2 linked regions of the Homo sapiens genome follow. The protein of the gene in region 2 purifies or fractionates together with the protein of the main gene of each other region. This does not show direct contact. Each region holds a gene or a part of one and is shown on either strand. Other genes may lie near its edges.

What was found. The genes of interacting proteins can lie anywhere in the genome.
Region 1: the proteins of LOXL1 (region 2) and P4HA2 purify together in Homo sapiens (co-immunoprecipitation; one large-scale study listed by IntAct). This does not show direct contact.

The regions. Positions count from the first base shown.
Region 1 is NC_000005.10:132,220,941-132,225,852, reverse strand, and holds part of P4HA2 (prolyl 4-hydroxylase subunit alpha-2 isoform 2 precursor), read left to right. Parts: intron 1-4,912. UniProt on the Homo sapiens protein: Catalyzes the post-translational formation of 4-hydroxyproline in -Xaa-Pro-Gly- sequences in collagens and other proteins.
Region 2 is NC_000015.10:73,943,078-73,947,989, forward strand, and holds part of LOXL1 (lysyl oxidase homolog 1 preproprotein), read left to right. Parts: intron 1-3,339; coding exon 3,340-3,477; intron 3,478-3,989; coding exon 3,990-4,146; intron 4,147-4,729; coding exon 4,730-4,825; intron 4,826-4,912. UniProt on the Homo sapiens protein: Catalyzes the oxidative deamination of lysine and hydroxylysine residues in collagen and elastin, resulting in the formation of covalent cross-linkages, and the stabilization of collagen and elastin fibers.

The DNA.
Region 1 (4,912 bases), on a different chromosome or scaffold from region 2:
AGACTTGGTGACAGCTTAGCTGAGGCATTGTCTGTGGCATGTGATAGGCCCTTGTATCCTGTCGAAAGCTCTGCATTGGGGTACTCTAGACAGTGCTTACTTAGTCACCGGTTTAGACTGGCCCCAGCTGATCTCAGTTCATCCCTTGAGTGCCTTCTGCCTGTTTGGCTTCTGACTGGAGCGTGCCTGGGGCTAGAATGAGGGACGAGAGAGAGGAGGTGGCCGAGGCACTATTCTTGCCTGTGGGTAGCTCGTACTCTGAGATTGCTGCTTCATATTGGCAGCTGGCCATGTGCCAGGGGAGGAGCCCGGCTGTGAGTGCTCATCAAAGGAAGAGACTACGTGGGTGCAGCTCTGAGGAATGAGTCGGTTGAGGGAATCTAGGGTCTCCTCATTTCCTAAGAAGGCCTCCCTTTTTCACTCTGCCCTCCCACATCCTTGGGAGGGTCTGAGACTGGAAGCAAGGCCTTGGCTGATGTGTGGCCACGCTGGCTGATAGTGTGCAGAGGGCTAGGAGGTGTGTCCCTGGCTCCTGGGGTCTGTCAAGAGTTTACTATTATGCAGATGGAAGTTGGCAGGAAAAGCTGTGATGCAAGTACATGCAAGCCCAGCAGAGTGCTGGAGTGAGAGTTAAACTTCGGGAAAGTTGCTCACATCTAGCAATTTGGACATTTGAAGTTCCTTAGGGTAAGACATCAGCCTGTCCTAGAGCAAAGAGGGCTGGAAGGTCCTGTGGTCTGTGGGCTTTGTGTTACGGACATGGAATGAGAGATAGAAAGACAGTTTTTTTTTTTTTTTTTTTTCCTCAGAGCAGAGGAGAATGAAAAGTCTGGATGATTTACTGGAGCCCTAGAAGAGAGTTCTTGTTCAGCTGGTGTCATTGCAGGGCAGAGGATTAAGTGTTTGGGTAGAGTGCTCTCCAGCTCAGATGGAATCTATCTGAGCCTGGTAACAGGCCAGCATCTGCTCTGGACCTTTCAGGAAGTGCTTGCTTAGAGTGTGGCCTGTTTTGTACCTGGCACTCTGAGGGCCAGGGTGTAGTGGAGATCCTCAGGCCTGGGTACTTGTAGGAGCCTGGAATGAGCAGGTCAGAGGCATATAAGTACATGAGTTCCTAGAGTATTGGTCCAATCCCCCGCCTTTTGCTAGAGAACATTGCTTGATGAGCTTTAGAGCCAGTGATTGACCAGTTCCAGGGTTATCCCCTGATGATCAATGTACTACATTATACCTGATTCCAGTCTCTCCTGAATTAAATGTTTCATTTCTTGTGGTGCTCCTGGAACATGGAGATCGCCCAATTTCTGCCTTGTTTGCATCTTCACTGTTCCCTAGTCTGGACCTTCTTTCTCACCCAGGAATCAGCTGACTTGGGCTGGGCAGCTGGCTGCCTCAGGTCCACTGATGTTTCTCTGGTGCCCTTGGTACTAATGATTGACATAAATTATGCCTAGTGCAGGGCTACCTGCCAACATCTGTCATCACATTCAGTCCTCCAACAGCCCTATGAGATATAGGTCCTAGTATTGTCTCTATTATATACATGGGGAAACTGAGGAATCCTATAACTTGTCCAAGGTCACAAAGCCGGGAAGTGGTATAGAATTGGGGTTTAACTCTTAGTATGTCTGACCCTAGGGCAGGTGTGCCTGTCCATTTGACTGTACTGCCTTGCCCTGAGCTGGACTGGCTGGTTATTTGTGAGTGCTGTCATGTCTAAGGTAGGAGTGACTGCCCATCTGAACTTAAGGGACCATGTTGCTGTTTTCTGGGTCCATGTTGCGTTCCTCCCTCTGGTGAGATCCAGCCAGGCGTGTCATGGACCTGCTTTATGAACCTTTGGTGTAACCCATGATAAAGTCCTTAACCTGGGCAGGCATGTTCTTCCTGGGCAAAGTGTGGCTTCCCTGTTTGGGAGTCCATTGCACTTTAAGGTAACAGATTATTGAGTAGGACTGGATAGCTGCAATATCTAGCAGAGTGTGTTTTGGGTTTGACTCTTGGTTCTGTCATTGATTTGCTGTCAGATGTCAGATATGTAGGAAACCTTCTCTCAGCCTCAGCTGTTTGTCATTTGTATCTATCTTATATCTGAAATGGAGGTAGTTATCTAGCTTAGAAGGTTTGGGTGAGAATTAGATAGTAGAAATGAAAGATTTTTGGAAACAAATAGTGCTTATCTCAGACTATGTTCCCAGGAAACAGCCTGAGACAGAGCTTAAGTACTTAATGCTTTATTGGAAGGTGTAATTGCAGGGCAGCCAGGGTGAGGGAAAACAAAAGTGAGGTGCAGGCCTGTGCGATGGCTCATGCCTATAATCCCAGCACTTTGGGAGGTCGAGATGGATGGATTGCCTGAGGTCAGGAGTTTAAGACCAGCTGGCCAATATGGTGAAACCCCATCTCTACTAAAAATACAAAAATTAGCTGGGCATGGTGGCACACACCTGTAGTCCAAGCTACTCAGGAGGCTGAGGCAGGAGAATCCCTTGAACCTGGGAAGTGGAGGTTGCATTGAGCCAATATTGTGCCACTGCACTCCAGCCTGGGCGACAGAGCGAGACTGTCTCAAAAAAACAAAAGAAAAAAGTGAGGTATAAAGGAGGATGGGAGGTGGTGTTTTAGCAAGCTGGCTACTCTGCACAGAGATGTACTTGGTTACCCTATGAGGGCCCTTTGGTAGCCACTGGGGAGGCCAGTCTGGTACTTCAACAGAGTCTGGAGATAGTGAGAGGAGCCAGAGATTCTGGCGTGGGCCTGGATAGTCTCCTCCACTGGGCTGAGGCAAAGTAAATACCCTGGGACCTGGGAGATGGGTGAGACCAAGAGGTTGCAAGGTGGGACGTAAGATGCATCCAATATAGTGGTATATGGATTTTATCCTCAAGTGTAGTTCCCTTTTGTGGGTTAGTCTCATCCAGACTGCCAAGTCTCTGCCAAGACTATGACTGAAAACCCAACTTGGCTTTTGCATGTCAGTTTTAACAGCCTTCTCTGCTACTTCATTGTCTAGTTACTGAAGCAAGACTTTGTGGTGGTGATGGTACCCAGGTGGGGAAGTGGAAGTCAACCACTATTCATGTACCAGACTGAGAAAGTATGTGGATAGATACAGATAAACATCTTGGCTTTATTAGGTTCTTCGTGAAGGAGAATATTTTTTCACATAAAGTAGTTGTTGAAGATACGAAACCTGGCATGGTGAGATGAGGCTAGAGAGGGCAGTAGGGCCTGGTCACACACTCAAAAGGACCCTTTGGGCTAAAGAGTTTGAACTTTATCTTGACGGCAGTAGAGAGCCAAAGGAGGGCTTTGATAAACCATGCTGGCTACTTTGTAGAGCAGAGGTGGGAGGAAGGCCAGATGACATGTGGAGAGGCCAGTGTAGTGGGGGCCAGGATGCCTGTAGGGGAAGTTAGGGGTGGCTCAGATCAGGGTGATGACTGAGGCTAAGGAGAGTAGGGTACCCCCCATACTTGCCTAGGGTGCCGTGGCAGCAGCTTATAGGCCTGAATGGACATCCATGTGCTTTGGTGGCAGGGTCTCCTGGAGCCTCTGGATCCTCTTAGGCTGAACACACAGGTCCTTTCAGCCCTGTTATCCTAGAGTTGGAGGCAGCGGGGAGCCGTGTCCAGTTAGGTTTTCCCCCTTCACAGAAGGCAGGCAGGTTCTTGTTCAGTGCCAAGCAAGACCAGTTTGTTCTCAGCAAGCTCATGTTCTGTCTCTAGGCTGTTAAATACATTGTTAAAACTCAGGCTGTTGCATTTGGGTTGCAGCTGGGAGCTTGGCAGAGATTCTGCCTGATGAGGTAAGGAGAGAAGCTAAGGACGCTGCTGGTTTGCAGCTGGAAACATCTTTTCATGGCCATTTGGCCAGATTGTAAATGTCTTTTCCAAAGTTCAGGTTTGGTGGGACCTCTGGTTGTATGTCTTGGAATTGCCCTGTGTTTAGAAACAGTGCCAGTCGCCTGATGGGTGAATCACTGTTGCTGGGATGTTGGCAGGTTTTGCAGGACTTTCCTGTGGGGGTCCAAACACTAGGGCTGGCAGGGCCCGTTTGGAGTCTGTTTGAGAAGGGCCTGCTTTGTTTTCTTTACATTTTAAGCATATGATAAAATAATTTTAAAAATTGCTATAGAATTTCTTGTAGAAAGATTAGAGAAACAAGCATAAAAATAAAAAGAAATTATTTCACCAAGATATAGCCAGATGTATGACTCTTTTCTTGCATCTCTCTATATACACATATACATTAATTTTTCCTTACAAAAATGGAATTATAGAGTGCATATTATTGGGGCCCACTTTTCTCACTTAACAGTATGCTTAGATCTCTTCATGTTGATATATAGTATTCATTTTTAATATACTCCATAAAAACTCATTGTATAGAAGAAATGTAAAATCTTCTATTGTTGTAGTTTCCTAATTTGAACAAGTCTGTGGTGAAGTATTTTTTGTTGTGTTCCTGGTATGGGACAGACATTGTTCTAAACTCTGGGGATGCAGCACAGATAAAACTCAGTATTGGTTTTCTGCTCAAGATGTCACTTTGTTTTTCATAAAAGTGGGTTTGACATTGTTCACCTCCAGACTTATTCCAGTTGGATTCTGAGGGTTTCTGGGAGGGCTTTTAGCAGCACTGGACACTTTGTAGGGGCACTCAGCAGGTACACATACTTTCACCTACTCTGTCTTAAGCAAGCTGTGGGCATAGTTATGAGATGGGTTGGAGGTTGGCCTTTCCCACATTGTGGGGCACAGTCCCTCTCGGATGCTGCCTCCTCCCAATCTGACTCTAATTAGAGGACTTTTTGTACAGAGCCTTTTGAGTTAAGGGGCCCAGGCTTGGGAGAAATGGGGTAGGGCTCCAGAGTACCCCTGCCAGAGATGTCAGTGTTGATGTGGTAGTC
Region 2 (4,912 bases):
TGCCCCAGCCTCCCAGGACCCTGACCGTTTCATCAGTGAGCCTTGCCTGCCCCGAGGGAGTCAGGAGGGGAGGGGAGCAAGCGGGGGCCCAGCATTTCTGTATACTGTACCTCACTATACAAGGAACTCCACTTTTACTGTGGCACTTCATCTTTATATGAGCCCTGAAGGCATGGGTTACCCCCTCAGGAAACTGAGGAGCAATGAAAGGAACTCAAACCTTTTGGATCTGAGCTGTTTAATGAGAAGGTTCCTTTTGGGAGCCCAGGCTTCCAGTGGTCATACAGGGACCCAAGGAAGTCCTATTGGGTGGATGTACCTGCAGGATAGAGCCCAGGAGTATGGAGCCATGTCCACAGAGGACAGTTGTGGCTTTGGCTGGTCCAGGCTGCCTCTGCCTAGTCACAGCAGGGGCAGTGAGCCCGGGGGACAAAGAAGTTTCAGTTATATGTTGCACTGGAAAGAGGGGAAGGAGACCAGTTTCCATGAACCTAGAAGGTGAGCACAGCTGGCTCGCCATTATTCATGGGTGATCCTGCCTCTCGCAGTGTTTGCTTCTAATTTATAAGCAGTTCATATTCTGCTGGAACATAGGTGCTTTGCGGATACCTCCCTGGGCCAAAATAATTAGTTAAGATTATGTTATCTGCTTCTTTTGTTAATATCCCTTTATGTTGAAAGCACCTATTTTTCTTAATTACCTGCTTTTTGGACATTTGAACTCTCTGTTTAGTTTGACTTTTTACTATCTAGGAAACTCTTTAGAATCTCAACATTTTCTCATTTCTAGAACTTCTAGTTCACTGCCACTCTAAGTAGCTGATCATAAACCCTTATCTGTCTGTAACAAGATAAAGAGCTTGAACTAGAATGTAACTCAACTCACTCCTTCATTGAGAAAGTCTTGCTTTAAAAAAAGAAAAAGTATCCGCTGAACTAAGCAGAGTGATTAGGAATGTTGTCGATGTACATTCTGGTGCAAGTTCCCAATCCCATCCCAGACTGGCATCAGTGTGGGAACTGCCCCTGGTCCAGGGACCGCAGGCTGAGTACCACTCAGCCAGCCTGTCTGGGCAGTTCTTGTCTTGTTTCAGTTGTCTTGGGGAAGAGAGCATAATGGTCCTGCTGGAATTCCTCCAGCAATGAGGAACTTACAGCCTCCATGACAGCCCTTCCAGTCTTAAGAGAATTAGTCAAAGTCAAACTATTAACATCACTGCCTCTTCATGAAGGATCCTGAGTGCCCGGACCTGCGCTCCCAGCTGGGGAGAGGAGGCAGCCTGTCCTCTGTCCTGGAGGGTCTCCTGGTACAGCTGGAGAGAACAGCCCTCACCTGTACCCCAGTGACAGAACCAAGACACGAGTGGGAAAAGAGCCAGAAGGACTGGTTCACAGGCCAGGGCTGCTGGAGGTCAGAGGAGGGAGGGATCAGCAAGGGCTGAGGCCTCAGAGGAGGTGGGCGTGGGAGTTCAGACCTGGAGAATCCTGCAAAACTGGAGCCCTGGGGCAGGAGGGCCCTCTGAGATCATTTCAAGTATGGGCCGCAGGCTGGTGCCAGTTCACATGCTGCAGGCAGAACCCAGAGAAGAAAAGGGACCAATTCCAAGTCTCACCACCAGTTTGTGGCCAAGCTGGGCCTAGAACCTAGACCCTTATGGTTTCCCACGGTGTGCTGAGCCGAACAGAAGGGCAGGATTTAACTGAACAGAGGGAAGGAGGATGTTTTGTTTCAACCCAGACATAGACAGATTCCAAGCCTCCCCCAGACAAGGCTGAGGGCCTTTCATCCTGGCAGACAGTCTGAGCCGCCTGTTGTCCAGACATTCTCTCAAAGAGAGCGCTAATCCCTACGACTGGCCACCGCTCCCCTCTGGCCTTAGGATCGGACCTTAATGAGTGCCAGGGAAGAGCCCCTGAGGCCAACAGAGTTAGCTGTCAGCCGTCAGCTAAAGAGGGGAGGGGCCTTCAGCCACCCCTTCCTGTTCCTACCACACATGTGTGTGCATGTGTGTGTATGTGTGCATGTGTGTGTGTCTCCCCTCACTGCAGCCCCTCGTTCCTCTTTCCACCCTTTTCCTTTTGTCACAAGGCCTACCTCAGTTGGAAATCTGGAGTCAGCAGGTGACTTGCGAGCAGGCAATTCATACCAGACCCATGTTCCCTGAATGGAAAAGGGCAGGTTGCCAGCCTGAAGCCATGCAATCAGGGAGAGGTGGTCTGGACCCAGTGCAAGATGTAGATGGTATCGGGCTGTGCTGCAGTCAGTGCTGTTAGAGCTCACAGGCAATCCGGATCCTCTATGTAGAGCAATCAGGGCAGACTTCCTGGAGGAGGGGACTTTTGAGTTGACCCTAGGATACTGGGTGAGTTTTGGAATTCTGGGTCAAGCAAACAGCATGGGCAAAAGTATGGGTCAGGGAAAAAGTTCAGCCTGTTTGGAAAATAGGCTTTGAAGCAGGAACCCAGGGTGTGTGGGGGAGTGGAAGGGCAGATGGGACTAGAAAAGTGAAGAGGCTTTGACCAGAGGACTTCACGTCTGTTTTTCAGGCCCACACCCAAGACATGGCATACTTTGGTCAACAATTAGGGCTCTGTCTTGTTGTCAGAGACTTATCAGAATCTCCTGGATAGGACTTTTTTTTTTCTTTTTTTTAGAAAGGGGGTCTCACTCTGTTGCCCAGACTGGAGTGCAGCAGCACAATTATAGCTCATTGCAGCCTCAAATTCCTGGGCTCAAGGGATCAGTCTCCAAGTAGCTGGGACTACAGGCATAAGCCACCTTACCTGGCTAATTTTTTAATTTTTTAAAAATTTCTTTAATTAAATTAATTTTTTAAATTTTAATTTCTCACTATGTTGCCCAGGCTGGTCTCAAACTATGGGCCTCAAGTGATCCTCCTGCCTCGACCTCCAAAAAGCTCTGTAATTACAGGCATGAGCCAAAGTGCCTGGCCCCCGCAATAGGGCTGTTTTTCAGTGGCCCTTCAGAGATTGCTATGTGCTCCTGCACCTAGGGGCTGACCCCAGCTGAGTCACCTGCAGGTATCAGGGACACTGCCATGCTTGGTACCGCTTTAGAAAGATGCTGTTGGCAGCTGGCGGCCACATGGTGGAGGCCAGAAAGGAGGGGACAGCCAGGATTTCACGGGGTCAGAAGACAGAGGAAGAGGCCTGAGCCTCCGCCACAGTTCGAGGAGACAGAGGAGAAGATCTTCAGGGACAAGGAGTGGGGCTGCAGAACCAGTGGCCAAGGGCTGGGGGTGGGGCTGAGGGGGCCCATGCTGGGTTCTGGTGTCACTGTGCCCCAACCCCCCCTCATCTCCCCCGCCGTCCCTGCAGCACAGCCTATGCCCCTGAGGCCACCGACTACGATGTGCGGGTGCTACTGCGCTTCCCCCAGCGCGTGAAGAACCAGGGCACAGCAGACTTCCTCCCCAACCGGCCACGGCACACCTGGGAGTGGCACAGCTGCCACCAGTGAGTGGGGAGGGGCTGGGCCCGTCCTCTTCCACTTCTCCTCTGGGCCAGGGACCTTGGTGCCTGAGCTCCCCTCCCACCATGAGCACTCTGGGAGACACAGATACTGGATTAGAGGGCCCGGGGAGGTGTTACCTGCCAACTCTTTTCACTGGGGCAAGTGTTTCTCAGAGAAGCCTTAGCCAAAGCTAGGCTGGAAGATGGATATAGAAGGATTGGTCTCAATCAGGGATGGAAATGTCTAGAATACAGGGCATTGCCCAGTGAGGCCATTACAGGTGGGAGCCCAAAAAGGAAGTGAGGGGTCTAGAGCATGTGCTGTCCTGGAGTGACCCAGCTAGGTGGGGAGCACAGAGGGGCCACCCCGCAGTACTCAGGAGACAGGAGAACCTAGACCAGCCAGGAGGCTGTGCCACAGCAGGGTCACCTGAGCCCATCTCAGGATGGGGACAGGATGAGAGGCCCAGGGAAGACTAGGCCCTCTTCTTTCTCCTTCTCTCCTCTGCCCCTAGGCATTACCACAGCATGGACGAGTTCAGCCACTACGACCTACTGGATGCAGCCACAGGCAAGAAGGTGGCCGAGGGCCACAAGGCCAGTTTCTGCCTGGAGGACAGCACCTGTGACTTCGGCAACCTCAAGCGCTATGCATGCACCTCTCATACCCAGGTTGGGCTGGAGAGATGGGGTTTGGGGCATGGGAGGATAAGGAGTTGGGGAGGCAAAGAGCGAGGCCCGCTGAGGCCCGGCAAGTGCCAAGGCTTCTGGCCACTCAGCTCTGCTCACAGTGAAGGTCTTCTCACCAGTCCTCAGGCTGCCACACTGCCCTGCAGGGACTGTTCCCTCCCTGCCCCAGCCCCTTTCCCATGTTATTCCAGGTGATCTGCTCGTGGAGAGAAGGAAACATCGCAACAGTCTGGAGAGCAACACGTCCTATTGGCCTGTTCACCCACCCATATCCCTCTTTCCATCAGCCACCCTAAATATCCACAAACTGTCCATCTGTCCTGTCTCTTTTTATCCATTCTGCCATCCATCTCGTCCCTCCCACCTGGCTATTAGATATCTGTCTTTCCTCTGGTCCATCTAGCCAGTGGCTTTAGGAAGGTGTGGACCCACCCTGAGCAGTTGCCCTGGGCCAGGGTCAGGGGAGAAACCCAGGGGAAGGTGGGCCAGAAACTCCTGAAGGTGGGCGTGGGGTGGCTCTGGGAAACAAGCAGCATCACAGCCGCTCCTCTTGTCCCTTTCCCAGGGCCTGAGCCCAGGCTGCTATGACACCTACAATGCGGACATCGACTGCCAGTGGATCGACATAACCGACGTGCAGCCTGGGAACTACATCCTCAAGGTGGGCCTCTGGGTCTGGGGCTTTCCCTCCAACCTGATGTTCATGTCCAATGTCCCCCCGTTCCTGAAAGAAGCTTCAGCCTCTGGG